7 linked regions of the Homo sapiens genome follow. The protein of the gene in region 2 purifies or fractionates together with the protein of the main gene of each other region. This does not show direct contact. Each region holds a gene or a part of one and is shown on either strand. Other genes may lie near its edges.

Region 1 (3,500 bases), on a different chromosome or scaffold from region 2:
AATTGTTTGACATTTGGTAGCCATATATGTAATTGAAGAAGTTATATATTTCACTTTTTGACAACCGAAAAAGTTTGCCTTGTTTCAAATCATGTGCTGGCTGTTTTGTAAGTAAATTTATACATGGATGTCACTTAAAACTAAACTCTTGATCATAACAGGGTTGAATATATATTTTGAATATACATTAGCTTATTCAAAACTCTTGTTTCACTACTGTGATCTCTGTCTCCTTTATACACCTCTATCCCCATGCCAAATCTTAAGTAACACCACCAGAAAGTGAACAGGGAAAATAACAGGACATGGAATTCAAATCAAGCAATATAGTTCTTATAAAGAGTTCCAATAAAACATTTCAGAAGAAAAAGTATGAAACAAGCTAAAAGTAAGTTTCACTTAGAAAACTTCTCCCCACTCACACTCCCCACCAAATAATCTCATATTATTTGGGAAATATTTGGATTTCAATTGTCCCTACCCAGCCTAAACTAAGGTAAATGATAATTAGCATACACTACCTTAATATTGTGATGAAAATCAGTAAAGATAGAACGTTTTCTAAAGGTCAAAAATAATATATTTATTATTACTGGGGAAAGCTCCCAGGTTAAATATAACTTTTTTAAAATGTAACATTTGGACCTAGACCTACTTTAATATATCATTTGAAGTTTCAGACAATTTTGGTGCTAATTACTTTTTGTGAGTTTTTAAAGTCTCATAGCCTAGTTGACTGCACCCTATGGTAATGCCATATTTTCTTGTATCTAACAAGTTGCATATTTTTTCCTAGAGAGACATTTTCAGTGTATTTTTTTTTAGAAATTTATAATTTTATAGTTCTTTCATAACACTTATTCTGAGTTTTGAAACAATGTATTTCCTATCTTGACATGGATTTTTTCACAAAAAATTTGTATTTTACTGTTGTTTTCAGGAAAAAAATCAGATCATTTTTCTTTGATATCTATATCAGAAAGGTACAATATTAACAGTATAAAACCAAATGCTTAAATTTGGAACTTAGCCAATTTTGATAATCTTTTTCTAAGGCTAAAGTCACATCAGTAATTGGCTAGCCATGTTATTAAGGTGTCTTAATTCAGCATTTTCAGGTTTTATATTGAAATACGCATTTCTTTAAATATTCTTTGAAAATGGAGAATGGCTTTAGTGATATTTTGGGTTTTGTTAGAGAACCTAAAATCTTTACACTTTCATCTCAAAGATTATAAAGGAAAGGGGGGTAGTTAAGATTTAGAATTCAAGTTAAATTTCAGAAATTGGGGCAGTCAGGCATTTGTATCTTTGGTAGGGCAACAAGTAAAACATGTAGAGTGCTTGCTATCCCACTTCATAAAGCTTTTACCCAATCTTATTTCTAAACCTCTGTGCATTCTTAGTGTCTTCTCATTCTGAAACAGAAAATAAGGAAAAACATTTAACTTAGTTTTCTAAAATCAGATAATCCTAAACAAAAATGTTAGTCAGGGTCACTAAAAAGTATTGCACATTTATATAAATACAGTCCTTTTAAAATTTGACTTTTAAAAAACAAAAGACTTTGTACGATATTGTGTTTTTATTGCTTTTGCAATATTTTTATAGTAGCCTTTATGAACTCAGTATAAGTGCAAGTTGTTTGAAAAGGTGTTTTTATTAGTGCACAATAGAATTGTGAGGTTTTCAATAGATGTCATGAGATTTTGTATATCTACATAAAATATCAGTACATTTTTTTCTAATGCTACTGGAAATTTTACTTTTCCTTTGCAACACATAAATGATATGATGTACAAAATAACAGCTCTGGTTCCACCAGTACCTAATGTTGAAAACATTTTTAAAGTAATTTTTAATACTAACTATTTAGTATACTGTCAGTACTGTACATCTGCACACTGGTGTTAATAGGGTATATATTAAATTATATAAAGAAATAAGATATTTTGCTGTTATTCTTTCTACATATATTATTGGTCAGTACATCAAATAATATTTGGCTTTGATATGGGAAAAAACAAACTTTGCCTATGTAATGGAAATAAAATATTTTCTTTTATGAAATATATTAGAATGCAGATTATACTAATATCCTGAAATAAAACTGGTAATTTATTTGGTTCATGGTATAAAGAATTAGATTGGGCCGGGCGCGGTGGCTCACGCCTGTAATCCTAGCACTTTGGGAGGCTGAGGCGGGTGGATCACAAGGTCAGGAGATCGAGACCTTCCTGGCTAACATGGTGAAACCCCATCCCTACTAAAGGTACAAAAAATTAGCCGGGCCTGGTGGCAGGTGCCTGTCGTCCCAGCTACTCAGGAGGCTGAGGCAGGAGAATGGCGTGAACCCGGGAGGCAGAGCTTGCAGTGAGCACTCCAGCACTCTGGGTAACAGAGTGAGACCCCATCTCAAAAAAAAAAAAAAAAAAAAAAAAATTGGATTGAAAATGATTCTCATCATTTCAATCTCAAATACAAGCCAGTTTTAGAAACTGTTATTGCTTATGAATAAAGAAATAGAAGTTACAATGCTAAGGTTATTACATAATGCATACTCATATGGCCAGTAATTCAAAAGAAAAAGGTCGAAGTCTACAAATAAACAGACTGTAGATGAGTAAATCCATTTTTCTTAAAGTAAAAACTCTGTATTTTGTAGAATTCTGTCCTCTCATACCTTAAGCTGTCATGGGCAAGGTATTTTCCCATTCCTGGCTACAGGCAGATCATTCCTAGTCCAGTAGTGTGCTGGAGCAAGCTTGCACTGGCTTACAAGAGCCAACTGTGAACATTTTTTCTGCCTTCAGTGCTGTCAAGTTGGTAGTTTGAAATTGGCCATGGTGAGAGTATTTACACCAAAAAAATTAGTAAACACTGCAAATCAGATCTTTTTTTTTTTTTTTTCCTTGAAAGCCAGCTGTTAAACATACATCAGCACACCCTAGAGGCCACATTCCCATTTCTATTCCTACAGATACGAAAGTAAAGAACAGAACACATTTTGTGAAATAAAAGAAAGCATATGAGGTAAATCCCCATCGACCCACCCAAAACTGAATCTGGCTCTTTCCCTTGTGGGTATTATGGTTCATGGTTATCTTCTGACCAACAAATCTCTATTTAATCATGTTTTGACCACAGAAAATCTCTCTAGGCTGTCACCAAGCTGTAAATCCACTAAAGACTATCCAGGCAATCAGGAAAGGCAAAACTTACAGAATGATAGAGGAAAAATTACAGTATAAGTAAAGGTCTGTTGTAATATAGAAAGCTCAAAATAGTCAAAGCCAGGTTTGGAGCAATCAAAGGCTATTCGTGTGGTTCATAGATTGTTTTAATAGTTATTTTACAAATGTTTATTAATTTCAGGTGTTTAAAATGCTTTCATTACCAATTTATGGCTTTACAATTGAAGGGAGAAAAAAAAATGTAAGACGGCCAGGCGCGGTGGCTCATCCCTATAAAAGTGCTGGGACAGCACTTTGGGAGGCCGA
Region 2 (3,500 bases):
ATTTATTTATTTATTTTGAGACAGAGTCTCACTCTGTTGCCCAGGCTGGAGTGTAGTGGCATGATCTCGGCTCACTGCAACCTCCACCTCCCAGGTTCAAGTGATCCTCCTGCCTCAGCCCCGCTAGTAGCTGGGATTACAGGTAGGTGCCACCATGCCCGGCTAATTTTTTTATTTTCAGTAGAGACGGGGTTTCACCATGTTGGCCAGGCTGGTCTCGATCTCCTGACCTTAGGTGATCCACGCATCTCGGCCTCCCAAGTGCTGGGATTACAGGCTTGAGCCACCGCGCCCAGCCATGAGGTTAACTTTCAACAGAGAAGGGCACCTCTTTGGCTCTGATCAGAGAAAAAGGAGTCAGGAGTGTGCTTGCTACCTACAGCAATGCCTGGCACTGAAGGAAGGGAGCATCTAAGTGTATAGGAGAAGGAGAGGAAGAGTGAAAGAATTGCTATAGGTTGACTCTCATTTTTTCCACTAAGTAAGGGAGCCACTCCTTAGAAGAGTAGTTTTCAAACTTTTGTCAGAATGCATTATAGGTATCTCTTGTGGATCTGTGTCCTCTAAACTGTGAATTCCCAGAAAGCAGGAGAAACCATATCCTATTGTCTCTGCATCTACCACCCCTCTTCCAGTGACTAATGCAAGGTAGATGCTCAAGAAATGTTTGTTGAATGAATGAAGTGTGATAGGAAATACGAAGAGAGAAGTAAGGGTTTTATATAGCTCAGATGGTATCAAAGGAACCAACCAGTGACAAGTGAACAGATCTGAACAACCTGAGGGTACAGTTGGATTGAGAGCATCCCTCTACTTAAGAGCACTCCAAATAGGAGTGTTTGAAGTTGGAGAAACTAATAATAGTTACAGGTGATCTATTTGGCTTTCTGTCTAAGTTTCCCCACATCCATGAAGGCCCTTTGAATCTATGCTGCACAGGTGTCTTATGGGCACAGATGAAAGGATAGGAACTCACCCAGCACAGCCCAGCCCAGCCACCACAGGAGAGAATGGTCCTCTAGCTCCAAGACTTGGCTTTTCTAATTCTTGGCTTTCCTTTGTTTAACTTGAACCTGTTAAGACTTTTTAGTTTCTTAATAGGTCATGCCTACTTTGCATAGTAAATTGGGTCAAAGACATAGAAAGTATTTTAAACTGTAAATGACAATATGAAAACAAAGAGTTATTGTTTTAAGGGTATTTTACTTATTTGCTACAAGTAAGAAGTGGCTCCAAATTTTTAGATTCCTTGGAACCAGACAAATAGCTTCCTCCAGTTATATTTCAGGGCTCCGAAGAAGCCACTGGCCTAAACATGAAAATCTCACCCAAAGGAGAGGCTTCTATTTTTTTCCCCAAACTGCATTTTTGCATTAAGCTTATTAGGATGATGTTATCAAAGATGAATTGTTGAAACATGAGTAGAAGCTGGCATGGATTAACTCTCACAGAATGAACTGTAGAGATGGAAAGGATAGGATCAGGATAATGACTGACACATACAATCAGTTTTTATTCCCGACTTTTTTTCCTCAAAACAGAATTGCATCGATGAAATTGAGACCATAATCAGTGTTAAGCTCCAGCTCATTGGAATTGTCGGTATTGGAATTGCAGGTCTGACGGTGAGAAAGTTCTAGAACTTACCCTTTTTGCCCTCTAAAAAGCCTTGAAACTTTGCATCTTATTTCTTTTCAAGTGTGATAGTATCTTAAGAGAGAATTCTCATAAAGAAAAAAGACCTTTGTTCACAATGTATTACATCTTCTAAGAACAAAGCTCATAAATATATTAATAGTTTGTCCTCTAAAATATAATAGAAATTTCAACTTTAACTCATTATGACCTTGAGTGTGTCATTGTTATTAACTTCCCGTTTTAAGGCTACTATCCATAACCTAGATAAATGATTTTCAGTTCTGGGTCTCTTTCTACTGTTACAAATTCAATGCAACATATCAGGTTAATCTCTCTCACCTACGATTTGAAGAGGCAGCAGAGCATAGAGATTAATAGGGCGAGCTCTGGCATCACATGGTTTGGATTTAACTCTAGGCTCCACCATTTGCAAGCTCTGAGATCGCAGGAAAATTTCTTAATTTTTCTATACCTCAATTTCCTCGTCTGTTAATATATAAACCTTATAGGATTGCCGTGAAAATTAAATGGGATACTACATATACAGTAGTATTACAAATTAATATAAATAAAGTGTCTGGGACATATAACACTCAACAAATGCCAGCTCTCTGCATAATCTACCAGGCAAAGGCAATGGCATAGATGGTATTAAGCGTAGTGCATCCAGACCACCACCAGGTGGCTCTGTACTTCTAAAGTACAAAAGAAGAGTGTGTGGGAAGAATGGATAGCAGCGGACAGGTATGGCAGGAGTTGCGAGAGGTGGTAATGGAGAGAGTATTCGATCTACATCATTGAGATCTTTGTATGCCCCTTTGAAAGGGTGGGCTTCACCCTTAAGGAAAGGGGAGTCACCAAGAGTTGGAAGAACCTGTGGTAGAGGATAGAGGAAAGGTTGGAGGGAGGCAAGATTGGATTTGGAAGGCGGGTTAAAGGATGATTTCCATTGTCCAGGGGTTGGATGATAATAGCTAATGCTAAGATGGCACTTAGTCTCTAGCCCTCTATGTAGATTAATTCATGGCCTAAACTAAGGCAAGGGCTGTGGGAATTGTGAGGAAATCAGTGAATTTGCAGTTATCAGGGGACACACAAGCGCCTTCCCCTTTTCTGTATTTAGAGCACAGAGGGGTGGAGAAGTGGCTGGAAATACTCTGCTGAGGCCCTCCAAATCAAGGGACATTTCTCAGGTCCTCCCCACCTGCTCTGGGGATAGCCTGGCTGCAGTTCTGCAGCTCCCCAAAGGACAGTCCTGAGGCAGGTCTGAGCGTGTGCTGCATAATGGAGAGTTTCACAATCTCAGCAAATGAGCAGCCTAGAAGCATTCACCCCTGACTCGTGTCGGCAGTAGGCTGAGACTGAAGGAGTCTCACTGAAACCAGGATGGGTAGGGATTACATCCAACCTTATGGCAATGATAAAGGGGAAATGCCCATAGTGAGCCTATCTTGAGTCGGCACCCCCAGGTTTCTTCGTTAGTTCTTTTCTCTGTAAAGTGAGAGTTGCACAATGTAATCAGCTAACTAAAAGTGCATTGGGTGTCGCCCGTGCTACACACTGGTACTGAGTCCTGTCATCCAGAAGCTTGAAATCCTGTTCCTGGCCATGCCCTTACCTGCTTCTGCCCCTCCCTTTTCAAAACAACTGATCATTCATATCTTATTGAATTTAGCACTTACAGATCCTAGTCTGACTTAGGATGGAATTGAGGAGAGAACCAGAAAGTTATAGTACCCATTTTTTAAAATAAGCATTGACAGTAGTTTATGGAATGGTGCCCACAGATAGGGTTCCATGGGCTCTACAAAATTGTAGGGGAAATAATAGCGGACAAGAAGACTCTTTGGCATTCTTCTATT
Region 3 (3,500 bases), on a different chromosome or scaffold from region 2:
AAAATACAAAAATTAGCCGGGTGTGGTGGCGGGTGCCTGTAGTCTCAACGACTTGAGAGGCTGAGGCAGGGGAATTGCTTGAACCTGGGAGGCGGAGGTAGCAGTGAGCTGACATTGTGCCACTGCACTCCAGCCTGGTGACAGAGCGAGACTCTAAAAAAAAAAAAAAATGAGGAGTCCATGTCATCCTTATTGAAGGAGCAGTTTTGCCTGTGGGCGTCTGAGAGTTCTATTCAACGAAGGAGCAGGAAGAGTCAGGAATGAGTTCAGGTTTCAGGTCTCAGTGTGTTGATCCTCTGTGTCAGGAGTTCCCTTAATAAACAGTAGTTTTTGTCCTTCTCTTGTAGGAAGCTGATCTGGATGCAGAATTAGAAAACTGCCATCATTACATGCAGTTTGCAGCAGCGGCCTATGGGTGGCCCCTCTACATCTACAGAAACCCCCTCACGGGGCTGTGCAGGATTGGTGGTGACTGGTGGGTTGGCACAGTCTGAGCCTCCATAGCCATATTTCCCTTAAAAAAAAAAGCTATTTTGAGATATTTCAAAAATTTGAAAGAACAGTGCAAAGAACTCCCATGAATCCTTTACCTAGAGTCACCAGCTGTGACTCATCTGGTCACATGCGCTGTATCTCTCTCTCTCTCTCTCTCCCTCCCTCCCTCCCCCCTGCATATATATATATATATATATATATATATATATGCACATGTATTTTTTTTCCCCGAACCATTTTATTTTTCTCTTTTTGAGACAGAGTTTCACCCTTGCTGCCCAGGCTGGAGTGCAGTGGCGTGATCTCAGCTCACCACAACCTCCGTCTCCCAGGCTCAAGCGGTGCTACTGGCTCAGCCTCCTGAGTAGTTGGAATTACAGGTGCCCGCCACCATGCCCGGCTAATTTTCATTTTTTGAGATGGAGTTTCACTCTGTTGCCCAGGCTGGAGTGCAGTGGCACAATCTCGGCTCACTGCAAGCTCCGCCTCCCTGGTTCACGCCATTCTCCTGCCTCAGCCTCCCGAGTAACTGGGACTACAGGCGCCCGCCACCACTGCTGGCTAATTTTTTGTATTTTTAGTAGAGATGGGGTTTCACCGTGTTAGCCAGGATGGTCTCGATCTCCTGACCTCGTGATCCGTCTGCCTCGGCCTCCCAAAGTGCTGGGATTACAAACATGAGCCACCACGCCCGGCCACACCCGGCTAATTTTCTATTTTTAGTAGAGACGGGGTTTCACTATGTTGGCCAGGCTGGTCTGGAACTCCTGACCTTGTGGTTCACCTGCCTCACCCTCCCAAAGTACTGAGATTACAGGCGTCAGCCACCAGGCCCGGTCTCAGGTAATTTTTGTATGTTTAGTAGAGACAGGATTTCCCCATGTTGACCGGGCTGGTCTCAAACTCCTGACCTCAAGTGATCTGCCTGCCTCAGCCTCCCAGAGTTCTGGGATTACAAGGTGTGAGCCACTGTGCCCAGCCCCAGTAATACCCTTTTTAGCAATTTTTTTCTCCAATCCAGGATGATGCGTTACATCTAGTTGCTGTGTCTCTTTGGTCTCCTTCAAGTTTTAAGTTTCTCAGCCGTTCTTTCCTTTCATGATATTGACATTTTGAAGAGGACAGTGCAGATATTTTGTAGAAGGGCCTTCAATTTGCATTTGTGTGATGGTTTCCCCATGATTAGATTTATGTTTTGCATTTTTGGCGGGAATGGTCCATGACAACCATCCTTCCTAGTGTATCATATCAGGGGATACATGATGCCAGTTTGTCCCATTTCTGGTTATATTAACATTGATTGCTTGGCTGAGGTGGTGACTGCCAGCCTTGAGACCATTTAAATATCTTGTCCCAGGCCGGGCGTGGTGGCTCAGACCTGTAATCCCAGCATTTTGGGAGGTCGAGGCCAGCGGATCACTTGAGCTCAGGAGTTTGAGACCAGCCTGGGCAACCTGGCAAAACTCCATCTCACTAAAAATATAAAAATTAGCTGGGTGTAACAGTGTGTACCTGTAGTCCCAGGTGCTTGGGAGGCTGAGGCAGGAGAAACACTTGAGCCCAGGAGGCTGAGGTTGCAGTGAGCTGGGGTTGCACCACTGTACTCCAGCCTGAGTGACAGAGCAAGACGCTGTCTTAAAAAATAAATTAAATAAATATATATGTCTATATCCCACCAGGTGCAGTGGCTCATGCCTATAATCCCAGCACTTTGGGAGGCCAAGGCGGGCTGATCACCTGAGGTCAGGAGTTCAAGACCATCCTGACCAACACGGTGACACCCCGTCTCTACTAAAAATACAGAAATTAGCTGGACATGGTTGCACACACCTGTAATCACAGCTACTCGGGAGGTTGAGGCAGGAGAATCGCTTGAACCAGGGAGTTGGAGGTTGCAGTGAGTGGAGATCACACCATTGCCCTGCAGCCTAAGCAACAGAGCAAGATTCTGTCTCAAAAAGAAAAAAAAAAAAGAAACCAAAACAAAACAAAAAACAAGTAAGTAAATGTCCTATCCCTCTCTGAATTCTCATCTGGCAGTACAGCATCCATTGATTCTTGTCTGAATCACTTATTACCAGGATGGTGGCAAAATCATGATTTTTCTTTTTCTTTCTTTCTTTCTTTTTTTTTTTTTTTTTTTTGAGACAGAGTCTCAGGATCCTGGCTCACTGCAACCTCCATCTCCCAGGTTCAAGTGATTCTCCTGCCTCAGCCTCCCGAGTAGCTGGGATTACAGGCCTGCACCACCATACTCGGCTAGTTTTTTGTAATTTTAATAGAGACAGGTTTTCGCTGTGTTGGCCAGGCTGGTCGAACTCCTGACCTCAGGTGATCCACTCGCCTTGGCCTCCCAAAGTGGTTGGATTACAGGCATGAGCCACCGCACCTGGCCAAAATTGTGATTTTTCTAAATTCATCATTTCTTCTACATTAATTGTCATTCTCCTATAAAAAAGAGCTTTTTATCCCTACATCTTACTGTCAATATGGATTTATAGATTCTTAAATTATTCAGTGGGTTGTAATTATGACTGTTTATTTTGTATTAAGTACAGTGTTTATTTGATGCTCAAAATGTTCCAGATTTTGTCCTGCAGACTGGCTCCAGTGTTCTTTTCATATGACCCCATCATGTTCTGAGCACTTCCTAACCTCTGGATTTTGCTTTTTCTTTTTTTGGGACTGTTGCCCAGGCTAGAGTATAGTGGTATCATCACGGCTTACTGTAACACCATACCCTCAACCTCCTGGGCTCAAGTGATTCACCTGCCTCGGTCTCCCAAAGTCCTGGGATTACAGGTGTAAGCCACCACGCCTATGTATTTATTTTAAAGATCATGAGATTTTACTAATATCTTTTTTTTGTTTGTCTTTTAAGAGACGGGGTTCTCTCACCTCAGCCTCCCAAGTAGCTGGGACTACAGGCATGCACTGCCAGACCCAGATAATTTTTAAAAATGTTTTAAATTAATAAATTTCTTTTTAGAGACAGTTTTGCTTTG
Region 4 (3,500 bases), on a different chromosome or scaffold from region 2:
GAGGCACTGGAACCAGCCTAGGAGAAGACATCTGGCACTCCTCAGCAGGGAGCCGGGGACTCATGCCCTGGCCACTGCACCCTGTTAGAGATGAGAGGACAAGCTGGATGAGAGGACAGGCTGTGGGTTCTTGGGTGTGAAATGCCAAGGAAGCTCAATAACAACCTACTAACAGAGGGAGCCAGTGGAAGGCAAAGCCCTGGGTAGCCCCGGTCCCAGATCATCCCAGCCCTGCCAGGCCCGGCCCCACCACTCAGAACAGTGGTGGCCAGATTATACCCTTCTGGTCCCAACTACCAACCTCATAATCAGTCTAGGGGAATGGGCCAATTTCCCATTAATGACCCCAAAATGAGGCACCATGGCAGCTGAGCTTCCTGGGATGGTGGCCCCGCAGGACAGCTGCAAAAAACACCGACCCCAGGAAATGAGAATCTTAAGAGAGGAAGGGCAACCCAGGTGTGTCCTTCACACATGCCTCCAAGACCCACCTCCGTGTCAACACATATGCCCCTGGCACCTACCCAGGGCTGCACGCAGCAGATCTAGGTGAGGGTCTGGTACACAATGGAAGGGATGAGCCCCAAGCCCATGGGGTGGATGGCTTCTTCATAGGGGATAAAAAGAGCTATCAGCCTATGAGGGCCGGAAAAATCGTTAGAGCATTACTTCGGGAGTCCAAAAGGAGACCCCAGCTCAGTCCTAAGTGGCAGAATCAGCTCTGGGGCCAGAAATCCTAATCCAAGCTGACTACAATCCCACTCACCCCTCTGCAAAGGCATCTAGGCTCATCTAGGGCTGCCCTTGATAAGAGATGACGAAGAGAAAATGACCCTGGACAGACTATTGAAGCCACTGCCACATTCCTCAGAAGCCAGGCAGCAGGCTGAACTCACACAGCACTAGGGCAGAAAAGGTGCAGCAACCAATCCCAGCACGGCCTGCCCTGGCCGACTCTGAAAGGGTAACAGGGCCACTCTGCCAGTCCCAAGAGTTACCCACCTGTACTTGGCCTCCCGTCCCACAAACTGGACCATGCAGCGCATTGAGATGACTGAGGAAAAAAAAGAAAACACACACAGGTGATGTGGTGGGCCACACTTCATAATGCTCCAGCCACCGGGTGCCAGGTGCAGAGTGGCCACTGAACAACGTGGCCTATTCAGAGAGCAGGAGAGGAAGAGGGCCTTTCGGATTCCCTGTTACACCCCATGACCACAGCATGCCATTTCTACTGCCTGGGAAGAGCCCCACCTCCCTTTGGAAAGAATTCCAATCTCTCCTCAGTGAGGTGGGTTCCAGTAGAATACCCCCAACCCCACTACCACTTCCCAACAGGTCTACGGCTGTCTATGTACAGTCCACGAGGGGGCGCCCCTCACCCCACGCCCCCGACGCCAGCTTAGATACAGTCTCGGGGGAAGGGGGGTGGCTTACCATGCAGGGGGTGGGCCAACATGCGGGACACACACTGCATCATCATCTCGTAGGAGGTCTGGAAGAGAGCATGGGGTGGGGACTCGCCACCCTCGGCCTGTCTCTGGAACTGGCCCTCGAGGGGAGCTACAAGTGCTCAGGAGGGAGAAACCTGTCCCAGGGACTGCACATGGGGTCGGTCTGCCAAGGATGGCTCCACCTGTTGCCCACTCCCCAGTCCCCCACCCAGGAGTGCTGTCGGGTCCCAGGCTAGGCCCAACAATGGCTGAGAAGGCTTTCCGGGGTTCCCGGCACATCCAGGCCAGGGCTTCTTCCCTTACCATCCCACCCATGCATACACAAGGACCCAACTCTTCGACTTGTCAATGACCCGCCCAACTTGGGGGTGAGAAATCATCAGGCTCCCCTCCACGCACCTCTCCCTCTCCAACTCTCAACACCCACCTCCTTCACAACTTTCTTCAGGGAAGTCTTCATATCATCCTTGTTGGAAACCTGCTCAATCTCATCTGGAGGGAAAACCTGAAACAGAGAAGGGAAAGAACCAAGTTCAGCTACGCCTCTTCCATGGAACTCTTCGGGGACTTGGGCGGCAGGAACCAGCTCCAAATATTTCCTCTGCAGTGTCTATTGGCTGGGCCCACCTCAGGTAACCTCCAGGTCTGGAGCTTGGGGGGAAAAGAAAGCCACTATCTGGTGTCACAGCTGTGGGAAAGCAGAACTGTGGGGTGGGAGCTCCCCCATGGGGCTGGAGTGAAGCCCCCAATGGTCTGGGAAGGAGGAGGCAAGACCAGGGTAACTGGCTGCTGCAGGGGTGGCTGGGAGTATGAGGAAACCTCGGGCGACTGTTCCTGGCTTTGTGTGGGCTCACCTTCTTCATGCTACCCCGAGTCACAGTAGAGAGGGCGTTGGACATCAGCCGGGGACTCAGGCCTCGGAACAGCCCTATCTTACCATCCACTTGCACGATGTACTTGGCTGTAAGAAAACAGAGGTGGCAGAGGAGTCACACCCAGTTCAGGGGCACCCACTCCTGGGTCACACACACCCAGACCAGGCTCGGCTTGTCCTTCAGGTAACTGCTGACTACAGGCACAGAAGGTAACATCTGTCCAGGACCTGGAAGCAGTCAGGCCCTAACCCCCAAATGTCTTCTAGCCCATTTCTTTTAGTAAAAGCCTCAAAATGTATTTCTGACAAACAAGTTCATATATTTTCTTCCTTCCTTCCCTCCCTCCCTCCTTTTTTTTTTTTTTTTTTTTTTTGCTTTAAAAACTTTACTTGGCAAACTCAGCCATGATTTCTCAACTCAGCAACTTAAATGCTGCAACACAGAAAACAATTCTGTTACTTAAAAATTACATTTTTCTTGAGGAAAAGAAAATAGGAAAAACAGAGAAACTGCCCGCAGGGAATGATGAAGTCTTCAACCTAAAGGAGGGAAAAAGGAAAAGAAAGGGCTCCCAGAAGACAGGCTCAAGAACGCCCCCTGCACATGCCACGGCCAGGGCAGTCTCCACCCTGTCACTGTGCTACACCCAGGATACCACCTGGCACCAGATGGCATTGATTAGTCAAGGGAAAAACAAGTCTATGGAGAAGTAACTAAAACAGGAGCACCAATGAACAATTCCATAGAATAAACTTAAATGTTATGGAAGCTAGACCCTACCTGTGTGAGTTAGTGTTTCTTTCACTAGGGTCTGTCTTTCTAAGGATACGATTCATTGTTTTCTATCAACATTTTAAACATGTTTTAAATGGCAGGGTGGTATTTTTATAAACCTGTGCATCTGGAAGCTAGCAGAACATTCTCTCAGACAGCATGCTCCCCCTGTTAGACCATGACTTTAGCTCTCTGGCACCGCGCAGAGGCAGGAAGAAGCAAATATGCCTTTTGCTCCTCCGCAGATGTCTGCCAGCCCAGCAATTCAATGTCACAGCTAGCATGGGTTTTTCATGAGGCTGAGAACACCTGTTACCTGTATATGTGATTGCCTGAGATGAGGGTGGGCTGGAAGGAGAGGAGGAGGAGGGGAGGGGATGCTGGGTGACTTGGCAAG
Region 5 (3,500 bases), on a different chromosome or scaffold from region 2:
CTGCAGAGATGAGAAAACAAAGCTTAAAAATTTTTTTAAATTATTTTATATTTTTCCAACTTCATCGAAGTATAATTGACAAATAAAATTATATAAATTTAAGGTGTACAACATGATTTGATATATGTATACTTTGTGAAATGATCACCACAACCAAATTAGTTAACACATTCATCACCTCAGTTACTTTTTTATTTCTTTATGGTGAGAACACTTGAGATCTACCCTCTAAGCAGATTTTAAGCCTACAATTTGGTATTGCTCACTATGGTCACTGTACTGTACATTAGCTCTCCAGACGTATGCATTTTATATTTGAAAGTTTATACCCCTTTGACCAAAACTTCCCACCCATGACCCCACCTCTAGCAACCACCATTCTACTCTCTGTTTAAGAAAATAAAGCTTTAGAATAAGTTCTTGCAGGTAGATTGTACATGAATCAGAATTTTACTGTGTTTTAGTATTGCTTTCCACATCATGGGTTTCTCTAGGTTGCAGGCTGCCTTAGTTGGTTTTGAGCTGCTATAACAAAATACCATGAACTGGGTGGCTTGGAAACAGCAAACACTTACTTTTCGCAGTTTGGGAGGCTGAATGGTCCAAGATCAAGGTGGTGGAGCCCTCATTATCTGATCGCCTCCCAAAGGCCCTCCCTTCTAAACCATCACCTGGGGGGTTAAGATTCAAGACAAGAATCAGGGAGTGGGGCGGAACGCTCAGACCGTAGCACAGGTTAATAGCTTTCGCTAATCAAGCCACAAAACAGTAACTAGTCAGATACCTAAAGTAACTTTGACGAGGCTTGTTATCTACATATGCCTAAGTGGACTTCTAGGCTTAAATGTGTGATAAATTCCTTTGAAAGTTTCAGTGAGAGGCTATGAGCTTTTGAAATTTGGTGGCTCTGGGGAAAGTACTGATTTCTTTTGTCATGAGAAAAATGTTATTTTCCATCATGTACAGAAGGGTGGGGAAGAAGATTGAGAGCAGGGAATGAGTTTTAATTTCCAGTTCTCTAACATCTTTGGCCCATCAGGGTGTGAGTGAATGTGTGAAGTGTCTGGCAAGGCTGAGGAGCAGCAGAGGCCACAGAGCCTTGGCTCTCCGTGTGGCCCTCCTTCATCCCCAGCTGAGTAACCAGGGCTCAGGAGCCCCCCTCCTCCCCTGCTGCGTTACCTTCCTAAACAAGCCCCACCAGCTCCCTCCCTTGGTGCTCAAGGAGGAGGTCCATGCACTCCAGTCTGGCGTGAAGGCATCTCCAGTCTGCCTCTCCCAGTCTCCTTCACGCCTGTGCGCCTGCACACATGGGGCGTCACACAGGACAGCACAGCCTGTGCTGTGCATGCGGGGGACTTCCTAATGTTTCCCGAGTAGGCCAGACCCTTGACGGTGCCGAGCCTTTCTCCATGGGCCCGGGCCAGGGAGGTCCCTTCCCTCCTCTCTGCCCAGAAATTCTGCTCACACTTCAAGACCCATTTCACCCCAGTGGCGCCCTTGCCACCTCATGTTGCAGTTGCTCCGTTTATCTTTCTCTGACTTCTGTGTATACCGGGTGGCACGGAGTCCTGGTTTATTCATGATGGTGTCCTCAGTCTCTGACACTTTGTATTTTTCATTGCTGTTCTAGAAGTTTGGTTTTCCATGTAGATCTCGAGAGACTGTAGGACCAGTGACCGTGTGTGTTTAGGCCTCTTCGCTGTGTTGTTCACTATCCATTCCTAACTTGGCATTTGAATGTATCAGTCTTCTGTGGGTTTTGTGGATGTGAGTCAGATTTCTTTGTCTTGAGCTGCCTCTAAGGAATGAAGAACTTGGGTTTCTATCCATCAAGGCTGAGGACCAGACCTTGAATGCCATCAGCCCCCCTGATGCTCTGTGATTTTTAAAATATACATAGCAACAATAATATTAACACACGTTTAAGGTACTTGCACACGATGGCGCTCCCCTGACAAGAGGTGAGGGGTGTCTAGTGGGGGCGTTGAGAAGCTGGGCCATGATGGGCTTGAAGCCCCTCAGCCCCAGGTTCCTGTACTCACCTCTGCAGTGGGTGCATCTCCTCTGCTGGCCTGAGTGGGAGGTCCCTGGTGGGTTTAGCACACAAGCTTTTCTTTCTGTAAAGGATCAAAGGAATTTGTGGGTGGTCCGCTCCTGAGCTGAGGGCTGAGCGCTGGACAGGAAGACTGCCTGTGAGCTGCAGCCAGAGACTTGGTAGTGTTGAGCTTCTTTGTGCCAGGAATTGTGGAAGGTGCTGGAGAAACAGAGAGGAGTAGAATCTGGCCTCTGCCCTGGAGGACTATAGCCTGCTGGGGTGGTCAGAGACAGAACAGTTGCAATGCAGTGTGTGTGGTGGAGGAGAGGGAAAATGTGGACCAGGGGTTTCCTTTCATTTCCTCCTTAAAGCATCTGACCCACTCACAGCCTAGGGGGGCTGCCCCCAAACACTGTAGGACGCCTTCCTCCCTGCCACCCTGCCAGGAGATTAGACAGGTGGTGGGCACCTGAACTAAGGTGGGCGAGCCAGAATCCCTGCCAGGAATTTGGAAAGAGAAGCCAGGGCAGCCCGTGGCAATGTGGATGTTCCAGGGAACGCTGCAGGTGGAGCTGAAGAAGGGGTGTGCAGAGTGAGGCAGTGGGAGGCCCAGGTGAAACCCAGACAGGCACCAGGCAGAAAAAGGCACCGAGGACAGCTGTGGCTGCTCTCTTCCCCGATGCCGGCCTGGTGCCTGGGCGGTGTTTCCCCAAGGGCTCCTGGGATTGGAATGGGCTTTTGTCCCATTTGATGAAATGTTCCCTAGGAAAAAAGGCATAGGAAAAGGGGGCACCCTCCAGCTGTGCCTGAGGACGCATGGACTGTGCCCCCAGCAGACGCCAGGCGCTTTTCTTATTCTGAGAGGAGGGTACTTGGTGCCTAGTACATGGTTTGCTGCCTCTACAGAGATTCATGGCGTAAGAATTGTTGTGTTTTCTTAATTTTTGAGCACTTGGATGTTACTTTAATGTAAAGTTTTCCCAGCTGAACTATGAGGAAGAGGAAAGGCATTTGTTTCTTGTTGGTTTTATTCACAGATTGGCCTTAAGAGAAGGACGGAGCCACATACTGCTGACGGCCCAGAACTGGCAGAGAGAAGGTAAGAGACCCCAGGGCAGGGAACGACCACAGCAGAAAAACTGGGGCCCCCTTTGTGGTCAGGCGCCTTTTGCTAGACATTTACTTCAAAAAGGTTCAGATTCTTGAAAAAAATCGGGCTTAAGGAGGAAGCTTCCATCTGTGTGGGTTCCTCCATGAGGCATGCCTGACCTCCTTTTTGTAGCGAGAGCCTTACTCTATAGGCTTGGAGCAACTCATTTCCCCACAAATACTGCTTTGGCTACAACCCATTGATCTTGATATGTAGTATCTGTTTTTTCTTTCTTTTTTTTTTTTTCTTTTTTCTTTTTTGAGACGGAGTCTCCCTCTGTCGTCCAGGCTGGAGTGCAGTGGCGCGATCTTGGCT
Region 6 (3,500 bases), 1.9 Mb from region 2:
CCTAAGCCTACCTACCATGATCACACCAGAACCCACCCAGCCACATAGAGCAGGTTTCACATCCATTGCCTATGTCTGACCTGTCTTGCCCATCCACTCAATGTGGCATTTCTTGAGTGGCCACTCTGTGTGCAACTGTGTGTTCAATACTGGGAGTCCCAGACAAATGACAAAGACACAGCATCTCCCTGAGCGGCTGGTGGGTGTGAGTAGACAGAGAATAAAATAGCTAACCACAGGACTGAATGAAATACCTGACATGGAAACCAAGTGTGGGAAACAAGGAAGGGGATGATTAATTTTGACTTGGGGGTTGGGGCTGGTTTTGCTGAAGAAGTGACATTTGAGTTGAGCCTTGAGGATAATTAGAATTTTGAAAGAAAGGATAGAAGAGCATTCTGGGCTCTGGGGAAAAGCCTAAAGTGTGGATGAGTGAAAGTACATGGCTCATTGAGAAATGGCACGTAAGTTCCCTGTAGCTGGAGCTGGGAGGAGGAGGAAATAATGGGGGTGCAATTATTTGGGGGAGGAGGAAATAATGGGGGAGGAAAGGTGGGTTTGGGATAGATCCTGTAGGTTTTGCATGCTGTGCTAAGGAGTCTGGACTGGGAGGGGTAGATTTGTTGGTGCTCTGGGTGCTGCCAGCCAGTCTGTGCCCTGTCATCAGAGCATATATTTCCTTCATTGTATGTAATTGTTCCCTACTCTGATTGTTTCCCCTGGGGGCAGGGGCCACGTTGATTTTGTTCACTACAATGTCCCTATTACGAATAGGATATATAACTCATACTGGTTGTTTGATACATATTGGCTGACTGAATACTTACATATGTCATTTTATCTGTGGGAATGGGTAGCCATTAAAAGTTTGTAGGGCGAGATTAACAGGACAGGGTAATGTGTTGAGGAGGATAAACCCTCAACTAGTGCAACATAAATTGGAGAGTAGAAGGCATGGAGATTGTAGGGTGGGATTAACACATTCTCTTTATGTCTTTATTTTTGCAAATCTATTGAGATACTTTTTTAAGTGTCAAAAGCATTACATCTGTATTTTAAAATTCAAATGATATAAAAGGACTTTGTATTAATCAGGTAGGCTAAACTGCTCTAACAAACTCAAAGCATAGTGGTTCAGACAATAGATGTGTCTTATATAACAATGCGAGGGAGATGCTTCAGAGGAAAGGGTTGGGTGGGAACCCTGCTTTACACAGTCATTCTGGCTCCCCAGCTGGTGGCAGTTCTGCTGTCTTCAACTCACAGTTTCTAAGATCACTTTGGTAGTCGTCATCACCATTCCAGCCCCTACAAAGGAGGAAAGAGCGTAGAGTAGAATATTTGGAGTCTTTGTGGGTCAGACTTGAAAGTGGCACACATCATTTCTGCACACGTTCTATTGGAGAGACTTTGGGCCCATGCCACACTAGCTGTAAGGAAAGCTGGGAAGCCATGTGCCAGCTACTATGGAAGAAGGGAAAGACAGATTTTGAGGGAACAGCTAACAGTCTCTGTGTTACTTACAAAGGATATAAGGTCAAAAGAAAAATCTGGGCTAAACAGGTCAGCTCATGCCTGCAATCCCAGCACTTTGGGAGGCCAAGGTGGGAGGATTGCTTGAGATCAGGAGATCGAGACCGGCCTGTGCAACATAGTGAGACCCCCATCTCTACTAAAAAATAAGAAAAGTTAGCCGGGTATGGTGGCATGTGCCTGTGGTTCCAGCTACTTGGGAGGCTGAGTGGGGAGGATCACTTGAGTCTGGGAGGTCAAGGCTGTAGGGGACCGTGATCGCACCACTGCACTCCAGCTTGGGTAACAAAGCGAGACCCTGTCTCAAAAAAAAAAAAGGAAAAAAATGTGTCCACCCTCCTGCCCAGGCACAGCCACTCCTGCCTAACGTGTGTGTGTCTCTGCATACTGAGTATTTTGTTTTTTTTTCCTCATAGCTTCTGTACAAGGCTCTGCACCTAATAGGCACAGACTAATAATAGCTACTATTTCTCGATTGCATATCAAGCGTCAGGCTCTGACGTACATTCTGGTATTTATTCCTCACAACAATACTTTGAGAAAGTCACTATTTTGTCTTTATTACAGATAAGGAAACTGATGCCCAGAAAAGTTAGTTAACTTGTCTAGAGACATACAGATTCTTCCTAGCAGACCTAGGATCTGATCTCAGGACTCCATTCTGTCTCTGCTAAGGAAAAGTTTACTAATGTTCGCTAAACCTTATGCTGCGTATTGCTTGAGATTAGCTTAGGTGAAGAAAGATGATAGTGGTTTGAAAGTGAAAGTGCATTTAAAAATAGGAGGATCCAGGGTTAGTGCAGCCCAGGTACACTTCCTGAAGGGAAGGGCAGTGCCAGCATGCACCTCAGAGGTGTGGCATCTCTGCAACCCTAGCAGGTGGCCATGCCGGCTCTGAGGACGGGCCGAAATGCAACTGCCTCTGGAAAGCACTGAAGGAGGAGGAAGGCCAGTGGGAGGAACCCTAGTGAATCCATCCAGCTTTAACAGTCTTTGAAGTGCTGTGGCCTTCAGAGATTCCTTGGCACTTATTTTAGCCTTGTTAACAGAATTCCTGTATCTGCCAAGCTGATTAATGCCTGCCCTGGCTATAATTATTCTTATTAGCCTGCTGAATAGGAACTCTAGTTGTCAGTGATCATTCCTTACAAGGCAGCAGGCTAGTCGGCATTTATGTGGCTGTTTTGTTTTAGCGATGAGCTGCTGAGCTGATTTTCCCCCCGTAGATTGAATGTACATTTTCATATTGGCACTGCGTCTGGCAGTTAAATAAGGTGTGTGCTTGTCTGTCGATGTGTGTCTGCGTCTCACTTTATCAAATGAAGTTGGAAGGATGCTGTCCAGGCAGTTCATAGCTGTTTTGTTTAATTGCATTGGTTTCTTAAAGGCAGGGTTGCAAGGGTCATTTGACTCTGCTTTGGGAAAATAACTTGAACTGGCAAAAATTCTTCATAATTTATCTTCTGGAAAAGGTGAAGTGCTGCAGTTGGCACAGTCAGTGGTTTTTTCGATCTTGGACTATTTCTCCCCACACCAACTGTAGTCTTTGGGAAGCAACAGAATTAGACCCAGAAGTTAACACTGTCGTGTCCCAGCAATATGCGTTTCCAGTAGGCTGGAGATCATGGCTCTGTGCATTCGCTTGTGTTCTTTGAAGGCTGATTTCTCCACAATACTCTGTATTGTGTCACTAAGCAGCATGATTCAAGTTTAAGTAAAATGTTCTGGGACCTTAATTGCATCCTGTTTCACACCTTTACAAGCAGCTGGAATGTGAAAATATTTACCTCACTTGGGATATTTCATAGGAGTGGAGAAGAACCCGTGGCTACTGTTGCTCTGTCTAGGATGAATTTGGCTTAGAATAGCGAAGAGTGGAATTGTGCCTAAGGGTTCCGGGCACATTTCAGAGTGGGTGCTACCTTGGAATCCTAATGAAATAGAGATAGTGGGCAGACAGATGAGTT
Region 7 (4,039 bases), on a different chromosome or scaffold from region 2:
TTCTGACTTCATAGGGGTCAGTGGCCCTAATCTCTGCACTGTTCAAGGATCAACTTCATATAAAATTATTTTTTATTTCAGAATAGATGTACCTAGTATACCCCATCTCAGAAGGGCCCATGTTTTCTTGTATAACAACATTTCAGAGATACTCTTATCATCTGTGTGTGTGTGTGTGTACGTGAATACACACATAAGTTTTTTTTTTTTTAATCACACATATACACTGAAAAGCATGCTACATACACCATCTGGCACCTTCCAAAAGATTTTTCCTGGAAAAGGGATACATAATCATGGTTTTATTCAAGACAGTTCTAGTGTTTAAAATCACTTTTGCTGACTACAGCAGTAACAAATGGAAAACACCAAAACATATGCAAAAACAGCTTCACTCATAAACCCAACCACTCAGGTAACATTTACCTGTATTTCCTACCTTCTCTGCATAAAAGAAATACAGGGTACAGGTTAGATGGTATACAGATCAGATGGCATCCTATGACTTTTTAATAACACACAACACTAAATGTTATGACCATAAGTAGATGACCTCAGAAATCTAGTTTAACCTGCTCCTACTAGATGGCTCTCCTACCTTAGAAACCTAAACTGACCCAGTTCCCAAAAGAGGTAGGTAAGAATCCATGGACAAAAGTTAATCATATGGGCTGCGTGCAGTCGCTCACGCCTGTAATCCCAGCACTTTGGGAGGCTGAGGTAGGTGGATCACTTGAGATCAGGAGTTCGAGACCAGCCTGGCCAACATGGTGAAACCCCCGTCTCTATTAAAAATGTAAAAAAAGTAGCCGGGCATGGTGGTGCCCACCTGTAGTCCCAGCTATTCTGCAGGCTGAGGCATGAGAATCACTTGAACCTGGAAGGTGGCTGTTGCAGTGAGCCGAGACCGCATCACTGCACTCCAGCCTGGGCAAGAGAGTGAGACTCCGTCTCAAAAATAAAAATAAAAATAAAAATCATATGAAGCTTACATTTCTTTCATACTAAACCTGTTAGTCTAGCTTGGAATACCTTCCAGATGACAGAAAGCAAATAATAATTAGTGTTCCCTCTGTTAAGGATCCCACTTCTCCCACACTCCTACAGTTCAAACATCTCACCATCACAGAGCACACTTCTCAGTAAAACATCAACTACTATTTAAGCTCAATAATATTTAAACCAAGAATCAACAAGAAAGCAAGGCCACTTTTAGGGAAGAAATCTAACTTCAACATAGTCACAAATAATGGTTACACCAGAGAAAAATGAAGTTACCAAATTCCTTGCGCATTCCTCCCTGTTGCTATCCTTGGGAATCAACTACCTTAAGATAAAGAGTAAGAATGGTTGCCTGTTCAAAACATCAGAGAAAACAGCTTGCGGATGCTGTCAATGAGAACTATCTCAGATTTCTTTCCACCAAAAGCAAATCTGGTGTTAATTTTAATGGAAAAGTCTCCTCTACTACCTATTGCATCGCAACAATTTCTTGAAATAGTAAAATGAAGTAAAACAAGTTTATTTCGGGGGCAGAATCTTCTGATTTCAAAATGTCAATTGAATTTATCAATTTTAACCTTTCGGAATATTTCAGGTTTTTTTGGGGAGGGTGGCATCAAGTCCTCTTAAGAATATTATAGGGATGTGGCCGGGTGCGGTGGCTCACGCCTGTAATCCCAGCACTTCGGGAGGCCGAGGCAGGCGGCTCACGAGGTCAGGAGATCGAGACCATCCTGGCTAAAACGGTGAAACCCCGTCTCTACTAAAAAAAAAAAAAAAAAATACAAAAAAATTAGCGTGGTAGCGTGGTGGCGTGGTGGCGGGCGCCTGTAGCCCCAGCTACTCGGGAGGCTGAGGCAGGAGAATGGCGTGAACCCGGGAGGAGGAGCTTGCGGTGAGCCGAGACCGCACCACTGCACTCCAGCCTGGGTGACAGAGCGAGACTCCGTCTCAAAAATAAAAAATTCTAAGGATGTTGGGACGGGTACCACTTTGCTTTCTGATTTCTGTCCAACAAATCTTTATGATCGTCTGTTTTATTCAACAATACTGCGGGAAAAGCTTCAGCTGCAAGCTGAGGGGGTGGGAGGTGGGGAGATGGAAGAACGCGCTGCAGGTGTGCGGATTCTGCCTAAAATTGCGGCTACGAACTGGACCTTGAACACTCCTCCGTCAGCTGACTTGACTGCCTGTGTACAGTCTCAATTTGAGCCGACACACGGATTTCACTTTTGAAAAGCAACGAAGATGAAGAACTCGTTTTGAGAAATGGATGAGAAAAAGGTAGCTCAGGAGACGAAGCCTCGGGAAAGGAGGCAATCAACCCCACCCCACCGGCCTGTGCTTCCGGCCTCGACGCTCCGCCGTGCTCCCCGAGGCCGCTCCTCTGCGGAGCTCGCTCTCCCCACTGGTCCCCAGTCCCGCAGCTACGCGGCCTCCGCACGGTTAAGCAGCACGGGCCGGGCGTCTGCACCTTCGGAGAAAAGCCGCCGCCCAGGCTCCGCGCTGCGGCGTTACCTGTTAAGAAGCAGGGAGGCGGCGCTGAGACAGAGCAGCAGGAAGCAGAACAGCGGGTACTGGCGGCAGATCTCGCGTCCCACGTCCAGTCGCAGCCGCTGCTTCAGCTTCTGCCCCATCGTCCGCACCCAGGGCACCATCTCCGTAACGGCGAGGCCGAGACTGCGCTACTGGCTGAGGCAGAGGTCAAGGCGACCCCCCATCCACACCTCGCGTCCCCGCCCCACCGACTTGGCGGCGCACACAGACGCCTACCGGCAGTTAGCCGCCGCAGGCTGAGGTCGCGTCCGGCTGGGCCCAGCCCCACGCCCCCCGCCGCGCGTGCGCGGCCGCGGTCCCCAGCCGACCAGAGGAACGGCCGTAGAACGTGCCCGAAGTCGTCACCCAGCGCAAAGCCTCTAGCGTCTCGCCGCTCCGCCCTCCTGGCCGGAGTAGCGCGCAGTCTTCCGTGGAAACTCTGACAACACTGGCGACCGGCCATTTCCGGAAATCAAAGGACAGCCCCAGCACCCAGTAACTGCCTGTATTGCGGAGGAGAGGGAAGAAGGTTGTAGGGAGCCCGGAAGAAACTACAGCACCCCCGTAGCCGCCGGGCGCTGCCTGAGGGGCAACCGGAGCTCGTGGAGCCCGCTGGGAACTGTAGTCTTCGTGACACGAACCCGCAGAGGGATGGAGCGGGTGGTAGCGCTTCCCCGACCCCGCAACGCTCCGCGCCTCACCGTACACTCGGCTCCGGGTGGGAGCAGGTCCGAGCTTTGCGTGACGCCTAAGGGAGAGGGGGATAGGAGGACGCCTTTGAGTCGGTATTTTAAAAGGGGTGTGTTGGGGGCTGGGGGGGTGGCGAGTAAAACAGCCCTAGAATAAAGACTACAACTCATCAGGCCGCCACCCCACCAACAAAATCTCTTTTGCGCGCTCACGGGCAAGGGTAGAGCTCAATTCACGCCGGCTCCGGGAGCCCAACCAAAATCCGAGTGCTTGGAAGAGGCAGGTTGGCAGATTAGGTAAAATCCCTCTTATAGAGTCTCATGGGGTTTTCCCTTTACTAATTCATCACATTTCTAAATTTTTTTTTCTGTATTGTCCGCTACAGTGAGAGATGCAGGAAGACTATTATCGCGAAAATTTACTTAGGCGGTACAGACACTAAGCACTTTCATTTGACCTTCATGCATTCACCCCATGGTGTAGGTACAGTACTATAGTTTCAATCATTATACAGGCAAATTACTGAGACAGAAAGGAACTTAGGATCATAAAACTAACAAAGCCGGAATTTGAACACGTTCTAAAGACAGAGCCTGTGCCTGTCATCTCTCTTTCCTAGGATCTTATCCTTCAAAGTGGGGAAACAAATGTTTTTTAATGATGTATGTAGTTTCATGAATATTTTCCCGTATTACAAAAACATGGATCTTTAATGATGCATTATTATCCTTTATCAGAATGTACCATCCTGTTCCATTATTGCTAACCACTAAAGTCCATTGATATTACCATCCTTGATGATAAACCTATG

The links.
Region 1: the proteins of TSPAN2 (region 2) and FAM241A purify together in Homo sapiens (affinity purification with mass spectrometry; 2 studies listed by BioGRID and IntAct, with this or other methods). This does not show direct contact.
Region 3: the proteins of TSPAN2 (region 2) and DAGLB purify together in Homo sapiens (affinity purification with mass spectrometry; 2 studies listed by BioGRID and IntAct, with this or other methods). This does not show direct contact.
Region 4: the proteins of TSPAN2 (region 2) and MTCH1 purify together in Homo sapiens (affinity purification with mass spectrometry; 2 studies listed by BioGRID and IntAct, with this or other methods). This does not show direct contact.
Region 5: the proteins of TSPAN2 (region 2) and HSDL1 purify together in Homo sapiens (co-immunoprecipitation; 3 studies listed by BioGRID and IntAct, with this or other methods). This does not show direct contact.
Region 6: the proteins of TSPAN2 (region 2) and PTGFRN purify together in Homo sapiens (co-immunoprecipitation; 3 studies listed by BioGRID and IntAct, with this or other methods). This does not show direct contact.
Region 7: the proteins of TSPAN2 (region 2) and SNX14 purify together in Homo sapiens (co-immunoprecipitation; 3 studies listed by BioGRID and IntAct, with this or other methods). This does not show direct contact.

What each region holds. Positions count from the first base shown.
Region 1 is NC_000004.12:112,186,954-112,190,453, forward strand, and holds part of FAM241A (uncharacterized protein FAM241A), read left to right. Parts: 3' UTR 1-3,500.
Region 2 is NC_000001.11:115,051,504-115,055,003, reverse strand, and holds part of TSPAN2 (tetraspanin-2), read left to right. Parts: intron 1-1,541; coding exon 1,542-1,625; intron 1,626-3,500. UniProt on the Homo sapiens protein: May play a role in signalling in oligodendrocytes in the early stages of their terminal differentiation into myelin-forming glia and may also function in stabilizing the mature sheath.
Region 3 is NC_000007.14:6,427,455-6,430,954, reverse strand, and holds part of DAGLB (diacylglycerol lipase-beta), read left to right. Parts: intron 1-347; coding exon 348-475; intron 476-3,500.
Region 4 is NC_000006.12:36,976,197-36,979,696, forward strand, and holds part of MTCH1 (mitochondrial carrier homolog 1), read right to left. Parts: intron 2,416-3,500; coding exon 2,309-2,415; intron 1,960-2,308; coding exon 1,882-1,959; intron 1,589-1,881; exon of another isoform or gene 1,496-1,588; coding exon 1,438-1,495; intron 1,055-1,437; coding exon 1,003-1,054; intron 1-1,002.
Region 5 is NC_000016.10:84,135,178-84,138,677, reverse strand, and holds part of HSDL1 (inactive hydroxysteroid dehydrogenase-like protein 1), read left to right. Parts: intron 1-3,072; 5' UTR 3,073-3,134; intron 3,135-3,500.
Region 6 is NC_000001.11:116,912,916-116,916,415, forward strand, and holds part of PTGFRN (prostaglandin F2 receptor negative regulator precursor), read left to right. Parts: intron 1-3,500. UniProt on the Homo sapiens protein: Inhibits the binding of prostaglandin F2-alpha (PGF2-alpha) to its specific FP receptor, by decreasing the receptor number rather than the affinity constant. Functional coupling with the prostaglandin F2-alpha receptor seems to occur.
Region 7 is NC_000006.12:85,591,059-85,595,097, forward strand, and holds the start of SNX14 (sorting nexin-14), read right to left. Parts: upstream 2,801-4,039; 5' UTR 2,661-2,800; coding exon 2,521-2,660; intron 2,043-2,520; exon of another isoform or gene 1-2,042. UniProt on the Homo sapiens protein: Plays a role in maintaining normal neuronal excitability and synaptic transmission. May be involved in several stages of intracellular trafficking. Required for autophagosome clearance, possibly by mediating the fusion of lysosomes with autophagosomes.